4 separate regions of the Homo sapiens genome follow, and all the other regions are linked to region 3. The links come from fine-mapping of genetic effects on gene expression. A gene starts in region 3. Each other region holds a variant in brackets. All regions are shown on one strand. Distances are between the middles of the regions.

Evidence for each region. PIP is the estimated chance that this variant, and not a neighbour inherited with it, causes the effect. A credible set is the group of variants that fine-mapping cannot tell apart.
Region 1: its variant is the best candidate, but not a certain one, in a credible set for the expression of THBS4 in subcutaneous fat (FUSION, PIP 0.54).
Region 2: its variant is the best candidate, but not a certain one, in a credible set for the expression of THBS4 in visceral fat (GTEx, PIP 0.84).
Region 4: its variant is the best candidate, but not a certain one, in a credible set for the expression of THBS4 in testis (GTEx, PIP 0.86).

The regions. Positions count from the first base shown.
Region 1 is chr5:79,977,163-79,979,848 of GRCh38, forward strand. It overlaps MTX3 (metaxin 3), which reads right to left. Exons shown (of 9, transcript NM_001363818.2): 9 at 1-2,686. Among named protein-coding and RNA genes, the nearest start is that of MTX3, 13 kb to the right of the region's middle. The variant C/G (reference allele first, on the strand shown) is at 1,261.
Region 2 is chr5:79,874,165-79,876,850 of GRCh38, forward strand. All of the region lies in intron 1 of LOC105379048 (a long non-coding RNA gene), which reads left to right. Among named protein-coding and RNA genes, the nearest start is that of LINC01455, 61 kb to the right of the region's middle. The variant G/A (reference allele first, on the strand shown) is at 1,400.
Region 3 is chr5:80,033,791-80,036,476 of GRCh38, forward strand. It overlaps THBS4 (thrombospondin 4), which reads left to right and starts at 1,558. Exons shown (of 22, transcript NM_003248.6): 1 at 1,558-1,835. The coding sequence starts at 1,748.
Region 4 is chr5:80,102,854-80,105,539 of GRCh38, forward strand. No RefSeq gene overlaps it. Among named protein-coding and RNA genes, the nearest start is that of THBS4-AS1, 21 kb to the left of the region's middle. The variant A/G (reference allele first, on the strand shown) is at 1,571.

The sequences.
Region 1 (2,686 bases), 57 kb before region 3:
TAAAAATCAAGTCAGAAGAGAAGTAAAACTCATTTTTATGCATTTAACTTAAAAGCTTGAATACACGACTCCTCCTAGAGAGAAGGAAGCCAGAACTTCAGAAGTAGCCAGTGGTCCAAAGAATAAATGGCCCCATGACCTTCTCTATGGTTCATGACTTACTGAGGGCTGATGCAAACTCTGGCAAGTTATTTTTCATGATTTCCAAGGATCTGGGATATGTAAACGAAATGATTAAAAGACATTTCTCTGAATTTGCAAGAAGACGACTGAAGAATCAGAACAAAGATCCAACGGCCTTTCACGTGGCTACATGTTCACCATTACACCACAACTCAAAACCCACAGGCGAGCTTTCTCTCAAATACACATTCAAAATGGTGTTCCAAATAATCCAATTGTATACATTGCAAAGACACACAAAATGCCTCCTTACACACGATTAGTAATCTGGTTTTAGACTCTGAAGTGATACCAAACATATTTAGCTAACCCTCTCAAAATTGCAGGCCTAGTGAGGTTTAAATGTTTTAGGATATAGAATCTGCTTAGAATTTAGTGAAAACTATGAACCGTAGACTGTCTTCGGTAATGAACAAAACTGGAAAATATTAAACTTCCTTTGCTTTGTCACTGAGCAACTATAAGCTTTCTATGATGTATGTATCATACTAGCTTGTATGTGACTTTAGTGTCATAAACACCCATTGCCTTTTTGGCACTTTTAAAGTACAGCCAGAAAAGGTTTGGAAAATTGTTCTGGAAATACAAGTTGGTTCCCTCTGTCTCATGGATGCTTAGGAACTGGGTAGTCTGCTGAAACCACCAGTTCAGCAGACCCTTGTACAGCTGTTCCCGGCCAACTGGGATCCTAAGGAAACAGGCTGGAAGAGCCAGGGGCCTCCCTCACAAATGCCTAAATAACCAACATATCTATGCCGACAGCCATCCCTCTCTCAATGCCATGGTCCAAGGGAGTCTTGACCTGTCTCTTCCCATTTTACTACCACTGGCTAGAGGGGCACCCAACAACAAGAAACCTTTGTAATGAGTATGAACTAGCAAAAACACTGTAGGGCAGCATTTCCTTAGGTGTATCTCTCAGAACATAAATCCCACAAGATACCTACTTTTAAAAAAATCTGGCCGGGGACAGTGGCTCATACCTATAATTCCAGCACTGTGGGAGGGTGAGGCGGGCAGAATCACCTGAGGTCAGGAGTTCAAAATCAGCCTGGTCAACATGGTGAAACCCCATCT[C/G]TACTAAAAATACAAAAATTAGCTGGGCGTGGTGGCAGGTGCCTGTAATCCCAGTAAATTGGGAGGCTGAGGCAGGAGAATCGCTTGAACCTGGGAGGCGGAGGTTGTAGTGAGCCGAGATCGTGCCACTGCACTCCAGCCTGGGTGACAAGACCAAGACTCCGTCTCAAGAAAACAAAAACAAGAAATCCATATTAAAATAAATTAGGGAAATGATGTATAAAATAGAGGTGCTTCTTGGAGATTTAAAATGCACATTAGCGTATCAAAGGTCTGAAAGGCCAACAGTAACTCAACTTTGTCTAACCCACTATTTCCCAAACTTACTTGGCCACAGAACCCTCTATTCTCCTAACAATATATTCTGACAAAACACTCCTTCAGGAACTGCTTCACCCAGAACCAAACAGGTGAGTTTTAAAAAATATTATAGCATAATTTCAAATGATTAATAAGGATACAAAGAGACTTATTTTCCTGTCTTTTGTTATTTTGTCTACTTATTTTGTTCTGAATAATCTTCTATCACATTTCCCCTTCTATTCACAAACCTTCAACTCGAGTTACCCTTTCTGATACCTTTGTTCAAGAATGTTAATTCTTATCAGAAATCCATGGCACACTAGTCTGGAAAAAAATAATTTTGTGTCTTTTTAAATTCCTAGAGTACCTCTCCACTTCAATCACAATTTAAGTCCAGGGCAGGTATCCTGGGCTCCTAGCAAACACTACACCCCAACAAGAGTTTGGGAGCCAAATTATTTTGCAAACCCTTAAGAACACAAACTAAAACTAATTTATCCTTATATCTCTGCAAAAATTAGCATTTTGAACATCCAACGAAACTTCAAGTTTGAGGATAATGGGCTTACTGACCTGACCTTTGATTTCACGTAACTAACAACAAATTTCTTTAAAATCTGGTTAAGAAATATGAAAATATTGAAAAGTAAACATAAATTCCACAAAGCTGAATGGCAGCAAAAAATATTTCTTAACATCAAGAACATATACAAAAGATGATCATTACCACCCAAATTATCTCTGTTGCTCAGGATTTCAGTTATAAAAATAGCCAAATCAAGACAAAGACAATTACAGCTTAAAACGAAAAGCTACACCTTCTTCATTAAAGGTGAGCATCTTGTCACACTGTGCATATGGAGAGAGAACAAGTACAAGGCACGGGAGAACTACCATGTCAAGGGACAGAGCTTTTTCAAAATATTTTATCCTCAGAAGTAAACCCCACTACCATAGAAAGAAAAAAATATAATTAGATATTTTAAATCACAGCATTTTTGACTTCCTAGGGAAAAGGAGTTTTTGGTTTTAGGGTTTTTTTTTTCTTTTCTGGTAAGGCAAAATAGATCTTTAGATATCATTTGTTACAAACATGAGTTTTTCTTAAGAATGAAATAAAAAT
Region 2 (2,686 bases), 160 kb before region 3:
CCCATAAAGGCAAAGCTTTTACCTGGAACAATCCATTGCAGAAGAAGCATATTCCCTAAAGCCAAGGTTGTTGCACAATTTGAGCTGTCTCACAAGCACCAGCAACTAGTCATTCATTTATTCAAGAAATACATACTGAGTGGCTTCTAGGGGCCAAGTACTGCCGAGTACTGTGGACTCAGCCTAGCTCTCCTGGAGTGCAGAGTGCATCGGAGGAGTCAGTTGAACAGGAACTTTTAGTGAAGTGTGCGCTCTGGGAGTAGACAGCAGGGGGGCCTGGGCAACCCCAAGGTCAGGGTTGGCTTCTCTAAGGAAGTGACATTTAAACTAAGACCTGGAAGACAGTAGAAGCTGGCCAGGCAAGGATGACATGGAGTCCTCCAGTGTGGCAGCCATGAGTATGAGCCTCGCAGACCTCCAAGATGGAGGAACTTCATTGACCAGGAGCCCAGCTGCTGCACTCTGCAATCCATCACCATGCCTGTATGGAGGCCATGCTTCCCATAGGCTACACCAAGGCAATGGCTGAGGTTGGTGGGAGTGCCAGGGCAGCCTGTTCCTTGGAAGCCAGGACAACTCTGATGGCCACCTTTGCTCAAGAACACCCCCATAACGCTGCTGAGCTTCTTTACATTGCTGGGTGGTCTACAGTGTTTCTCTCCATCCTTCCTCCCATCTCTCCTTCATGTGGAGTCAGGCTTGCACCGTGTTCCTTATCCAACCTCTCTCCTCTCCTGCCTGCCATGGGCATGTGTGACATCGCTCAGGGAGGATGAGAAGCGGGAGGTGAGCTGAGCCAAGAGGCCAGGAAAGAAAAAAGGGAAAGGGCCCTGGGTAGAGCCGGGCAAGTTCTATTGTCCCAGCAGGAGGAGGAAAAGTCAGACAGGAGGAGTCAAAAGTTGATTCCAGGGGTTGTTTGAGATTAGAATCCTGTCCCTTCTTTTTAAAATTCCAGAATGGCTCTGGCTAAAAGCTTCCTGTTTCAGGACAAAGTCCCAAAGGAACTTTTTTGTAAAGCCATCTTGTAGATCACCTATAAAAGCTTTGTCCTTCCCTAACATTTATATCCTTACAGGTATCAGAAGAAGGTGGCTCTCCAGAGTGTCACCTTGGCAGGGCCAATCCCAGTCCTGACTGGGGAGAAGCCCAGGTGCCAGGAGTGTTGTTACTGCGGCAATGGACGCTGCAGTCTGCCGGCACCCGATGCCGCTCACCAGCTCCATCCTTCTAATCAGCAGCCGAGGCTCAGATTCTTCCCAGCTGCATGGGGAGACTGTCCTGCTCGGGCTGCTGTGAGTCACTTGGCAGATCTAGTTCTCATTGCACATTAATGCATTGGGGATTTTGTTTTATTTTTTTAAAAATAAAAGAATAACATTAACATCAAGGGAGGTCATCA[G/A]AGAGAAAAAGAGTTACAAAAAGGCAGCATGCGGCCTGTGCGTGTGAGGTGGAAGGTGGAGCGGGGGTGGGTTTTGGCCTTTAGGTGGGCATGGCTGCCCCAGCCAGGGCTTCAGTGGTGCCTTTCACATCCATTCTTTATCTATAGGATGCCTGGGGATTAGGTAGGAGTGCCAAAACACTGCAATTATAAAAAGAGGGAAAAATGACCCTGTTGGTGATCATTTAAGGAAGTATTTTAGGACAACTGAAAGGAAATAGATCTTTACACAGCCTGTAGCCTGTAAGTGGAACCCATTACCCCCATTAGGTGTTCTGCATGGAAGTAAAAAATGGGTCCGAGAATAGGTCAGATAAATTCACAGATATTAGATGTCATGGTCACTAGGATCAGCCTATGAAGAGCAAGTTACCATGTTCCCATGAAAATGTTACTGCTGCCCCCAGAGGACCTGTGCTCCAGCCACATCAAGCTCCTAAATATTTCTGGAACAGTGAGTCTTCTTTCTTGAGTCTGTGTCTTTGCCATGCCGTTGCTTCTAGGTTCCCTTGCCACTTTTTCCCAAGAGTGGTAAACTACCACTTATTCTTCAAGATCCAGTTCAAAGCCTCCTCTAGAAAGCCTTTCTTGAATCCTCTAGGGCAGGGGTGGTCACTCCTCACTCTGTGCCCCCAAAGCCTGCTGTACCAAGCACACACACAAAGCTACCACTGCACTATAATTGTTTGTCTGCTCAACTGGACTATAAAATTCTCCAGGGTAGAGATTGTGCCTGATTCATGTAGCTTAGCAGAGAGGCTGGCCTGCAGCCTCTGTGCAGGAAATACATGTGAATAAAGGAATGAATGTTGAGTTACATCAACCAATGGTCTCACCACTTAAAGGACATATTCTTAATGACATTCTCAGAAGCTTTGCTTCTAATATCACTTGGACAATACTCTTCTGCCAGGACATATTCCTGTTTATCTCAGCTAATATATATGCTAGTCTCCAAAGCAGCCATCTGTGTAGTTGAAGTGAAGTAGCCAAGAGAATTGAGATTTTAGTGTCTTTAACTTAACTGTGTCTCTCAGACAAATGAGCCAGTTCCCCAGAAATCTGGTCTAGAAACATTGCCAATGCACATTCCAGTGACTTTGAGATGTTAGAAAAACAGACATATCACCTTTCAGGCTGAAATCACTGGGAAGTGCATTTTAAAGCTGGGTTTCCTTCCAGATCCTTAGGTTGTGAATGACACACAGTCTGTGGAAAATTTATGAGATCACCAAGAAGCCGAGGTCT
Region 3 (2,686 bases):
TATTGCTGCTTTTGATGTTTGGTTTCATTTGTTCCCTGTAGGCACCTAATCACTGTTTTTTAAATTCCCCAGGAGATTCTGGTATACCCAATCAGCTGAGAACCACTGAATAGTGGCTTTCAAAATTTTGAGCATCCAAATATTGTCTTCACAGAAAATCTTAATCTCTGAAGTCTACTGTAAAAACATAGAAAGGCAAGGCTGTTCTGCTTGAAGCGTAGCTTGGGAGCCTAGATTCCTCTCAAACCCAGGCCACTCCTGGGAACATGGTCTGGAGATTTGAATGTTCCCAAATCTAGTTTATCTCATTAGTCGATATTTATGCACATCCTCTGTGTCTCTCAGTGTTCTCTCATGTGTAGACATATGCCCCATTCCAAAGAGTGACTGTAGTGTAATGTGGCATTAAAGGAACCCTGGATAGACCTGTATTGGACCTTACATATTAGAGAGCTCTGCAGATAGCTCACAAATCTCCAAGTCGCTAGCTGTAAATTGAGTGATAATTGGTGTCAGGTTATTTTAGCACAGTTTGGGGATAAAATGGTGCATTAATCTCCCAGTTTGTGGCTTATTAAACTTTGAAATGGAATTATTTGAGACATAAAAGAGATAGCAATACTTTGCTGGATGTTCTCCATTAGTCGAGATTGTTACAGAGGAGAAATTTTTGCCACTGTTTATCAAATATTTTTTCCTCTAGTTAATCCATATCATTCCGGGAGCTTTGCCCAGGAAAAGGACGAATTACTTGCGTTCCTCCGATCTCTTTCAAGTTCTACTCCCGTACCTTTAAACTGTCACACGGAATCTTTGGTGACAGAGGAATAGAGGTGGGCAAGCAGGGCGTTTGGAAACCATACTGAAAACGAATTATCCATAAAGCACAGATTCACCAGCCTAGAAATGGCTCTGTCTGGATGGATTCCTTGAGATGTGTTTTATCTCCATTAAAAACACAACAACTTTCAAACTTTCACTGTGTCTCAAAATGATAGAGAAAAAAATTCAGCCTTTCAAGTATTCAAGAAAAGCTTGAAGAAATAAAAGAAACTCGCTGCTCTCTGGGCCACTTTAGGAGGCAGAGCGTTCCTGGAGAACTTCAGGATTCATTCGCAAGGGAACCCAAGGTGGGCATTCAAAGCCGATCCAAAGGATATTCTTCTTTTTAGAAAACAAAAGGAGCGCAAGGAGTAGGGGACTGAAGGTGCCCAAAGCTAGTGGGTCAGTGTCACTTTCTTCCTCCCTTTCGCCCCTTTCCTCCCGCTCCTTTCTCCCCTGTGGTCTCTGCTCAGCACCCCTTTCTCTCCAGCCCCGACTGCCCATCTTCGCCCCTACCCTCGCGCGTCGGGGCCGTGTCTACACCCACCCCAGGACCTGGTCCGTCCAGGCTCCTTCCCATCCTCACACCCGCGCCTTTCTCCCTGCGGCCCCGGCTCGCTGCTCCAGCTGCCCAGCTCTTCCCAGGACAGGGGATCCCGCCAAGGGGGCCGCCCCCGCCCCGGCCCTCCCCCGCCCGGCCGCACCATAAAGCGCCCGGCCGCTGCCGCGGAGCCCAGCAGCCAGCTCCCCAGCACCGCACGGCGGGGACGCGAGCGCGCCCCCGACGGCAGCCCGGACGCCGAGCACGGGTCACCTGCGGCGCCGGCCCGGGCGCCGACCGAGGTTCAACGCACGGCCCGGGGACCCCCAGGCGGGGCCAACGCCGCCGTCGCCCCCGGCCTCGCGGGGAGCAGGAAGAGCCAACATGCTGGCCCCGCGCGGAGCCGCCGTCCTCCTGCTGCACCTGGTCCTGCAGCGGTGGCTAGCGGCAGGCGCCCAGGCCACCCCCCAGGGTAAGTGGGTTCGGGTCGGGCCTGGGAGCGCCGGGCACCGGGTGCCCCATCTGCTGAGTGAGTGGAGGGACTTGCTCGGCCCTGTGCTCCTGTGGCCTTGCTCAGCCCCTCTCTGTCCCTCCCGGGCCCAATCAAAGCATATTGTGATTGGAGGTAGTGATTAGTCTAGAATTTTCCGAAATTCGATTATCCAATGATGAGAACAATTGCCTAAATAGTTGGGGGATGCAAAATTGTTTCAGACTATGCAAAGATGTGGGGTGGGGTTGCCTTCAAAACTTGCTACACGGTCCTAGACCTCTTAACATGTTAGGCTCTGGTGTAGGGTGAATTCCGGGTCCTGCACCCTGTGCCGGTTCCCTCCAGGCAGCCTTGCTCCCTAAATCCTTCCTCAGGCGGAGCGATGTATGCCCAGAGTCTGCTCTTGACATCCCTGAGAAAGACGCAGAATTACTCTACTTGCCCTGCCACCTGCATTTTCTGCTCTGACTTTGCTTGAACGACAAAAAGAAAGTTTATTTCAAGGATTGGCTTGATGTCTTAATTTCTGAGGTAAATAGGAAGGGCTGAGAAACTGGTCTTTTTCAATGAAATCAGTTCTTTGCAGCAAGATGGATGCAGCTGGAGGCCATTTTCCTAAGTGGATTAAGGCAGGAACAGAAAAGCAAATACCATGTTCTCACAAGCGGGAGCTAAGCAGTGGATAGATATGGACATAAAGATGGAAACAGTAGACACTGGGGACTCCAAAAGTAGGGGGGAAGGTTGGGAAAACTACCAATTGGGTACTACGTTCACTGGGTGATGTGTTCACTAGAAGCTCAAATCCCACCTTATGCAATGCACCCATG
Region 4 (2,686 bases), 69 kb after region 3:
GAGCCCAGGGGATGCCTTTAAGGAAGGTCAGCCCTGTCGGTGAGACATGTTGTGCAAAAGGCAGGTTGACTGGAGAAAAGTCATACACGTTTATTTCACATTTATACACAGGATCCTTCAGAATGAAAACCCAAAGATAACGCGGAAATTGGCCATACTGATGCTTAAGATTAACGAAGTATGAACAGCTATGTACAAATGCGACTGGACAAAAAAAGGGTATGATCTAATGCTGATAGACTGAGCTGGGAGATTCAGTGAGGCCTGTGTAGATTCTTGGCCTCTCTGCACAGCATCCCTTTCTTCTGTGTGTGGGGCAGGACCCTCTCGGGAATGGGGGAATTATGACCTACAGTCAAACAAGGTAAGTCGGATCATTTCTTTATGGCCAGTTTTTACACAGAAAGGCAGAGGGAAAATAAGAGTAATATTTTTAGGATTTATGGCTGGCTTTGGGGAAAAGAGGTTCTGGTTTCTATGGGGAAGAGGGATTCTAGTTTCTAAGGCTAGACTAGGGGAGAACGCGCCTGAGAGAAAGGAGGGCAGGTATGCAGAGAAAAACTTTTAACTTCTGAGGCTTTCATTTTAGAGTACTCTTTTCTGAGTCCCAACAGTGGGAAGCCAGAGGAAGCAGAACTGTACTTGTGAGAGCCCCCAGACAGCTGGCTCTTCCCCCACGCAGCAGCAGTCAGGCCCCAGAGCTCCTCTTGCACGACAGCACAAGGGCAAAGCCTGTCTGGGCTGGTGGAAGCTTCCGTGGGTCTGGCTGTATTGGGGGGAAGACCTGTCTGGGAGCCTCTTCAACTATTTATCTGTTCTGCCTTCCTCCCCCTTGCTCCTGTCCTTTGAACGCTAACCTGGACACAGAAGCTCTCAGCATTTAGGAGGCCTTAATTGCAGCTCCATTTAATGTAAGATCTCTTGAAGTGGGTCCCAATCTTAGGCCACAAGTTCAGGTGTACAGAAAACAAACCATTTCTCTTTGTCTTTTTTTTTTTTTGAGATGGAGTCTTGCTCTGTCACCCAGGCTGGAGTGCAGTGGCGCAATCTCCACCTCCCGGGTTCAAGCAATTCTTGTGCCTCAGCCTCCCGTGTAGCTGGGATTACAGGTGTGCACCACTACGCCTGGATAATTTTTGTATTTTTAGTGGAGACAAGGTTTCACCATGTTGCCAGGCTTGTCTCCAACTCCTGACCTCAGGTGATCCACCCGCCTCAGCCTCCCAAAGTGTTGGGATTACAGGTGTGAGCCACCACACCCAGCCAACAAACAATTTTTCTGTCACAGAGTTTAATTCTATTTGATTCCTATCCTGCCAATGTGGCAGAAACATAATCTCTGTTGATTTAAAATTTACCCACATCCTGAACCTGGGATCTTGTCAAAGTCCCACTGAGCTCTGGGAGATGGGGTCTTTATTGTCTTTTGTCACACAGGTGTCTAGAAGATGCCACCTATTGTCACTTACTTTGTGTCTTACACAACTGCAGACCACTATTCAAAGGCTATATAGTTTGCTCTCACTGCTGTAACAAATTATCACAAATATAATGGCTTAACACAACACAA[A/G]CTTATTTCTCACAGTTTCTGTAGAAGTGCAACATGGGTCTTACCAGGTGGTGGCTGTGCTGGGCTTATAGCTGGAGACTCTGGGAAAGAATCCTCTTCCAAGCTCGTTCAGGTTGCTGGCCCAGTTCAGTTCTTTGTGGGTAAACTTGCTAGGTGGCAGCTAGGGTCACCCTCAGCTCCTTAGGTTCCTTCTTTGGTCCTTGCACATCATCCAGGAGGCATCAGATCTTTCTCACGCTTGGAAGATCATGGACTCGGCCTTCTGCGGCATCTGACTCTTCCGCCTTCCTTTTCTGCTTGATTACATCGGGCCCACCTGGATGTGCTGGGTCGCCTCCCTATTTTAAGGTCAGCTTATTAGTAACCTTAATTCCACCTGCAAAGCCCCTTCCCAGCAGAACCTAAATTTGTGTTTGATTGACCAAACAGGGAGAAGGGAGAGTATCTTTAGAGTTTTGCCTACAGCAAAGGCCACTGTGTGAGCACATCCCTGAAGGTGTGCAGGGCAGCTGCCATCACTCACCTCTCAGCCCATTCACTAGACAGATGCCCTGTCAAGGTCATGGTCCTTTTAAGGCTGAAGGTTTGCTGCCCCTACTGCGGCTGTCTTGGGAAAGAACTGGTTCTGTTCTGAACCATGCTGGGATAGAACCTCTAGAAGGCAAGGTCCCGTCTACCTCAACACACACACAAGCCATTTCCTCTCTGGGGTCTCCCAGGGCTCTTTCTAGGTTGCAGGAAACAGGACGATCTGCCCCCTGTTTCCGACCTGTACCCCCACCTCTGCACTGTCATTGCTTTCCTTCTTCCCCACACCACCAAGGAAATCACCTTCTCATCAAACCTCCCATATGCCAAATATTTTGGCTAGATCTGGAGTCCTGTACACTCTGGAGTGGCTTTGGGCTTTTTGAATCCCAGGTCCAGTCCTGCTTTCCTGTCTGTCACATTCCACAGCTGAGGCAATGAGCCAGGAAGTCACCTGCTTGGAAGTTGGAGGGGGACAGGGAGTTGGAGAATGGCAAAGTGGGGTTAATACTGCAAACCTGTTTTCCTGCCACTCTCCTGACATGCTCTGTTCTTTAAAATGCCCTTGGCACCTGGTCCATCACAGGC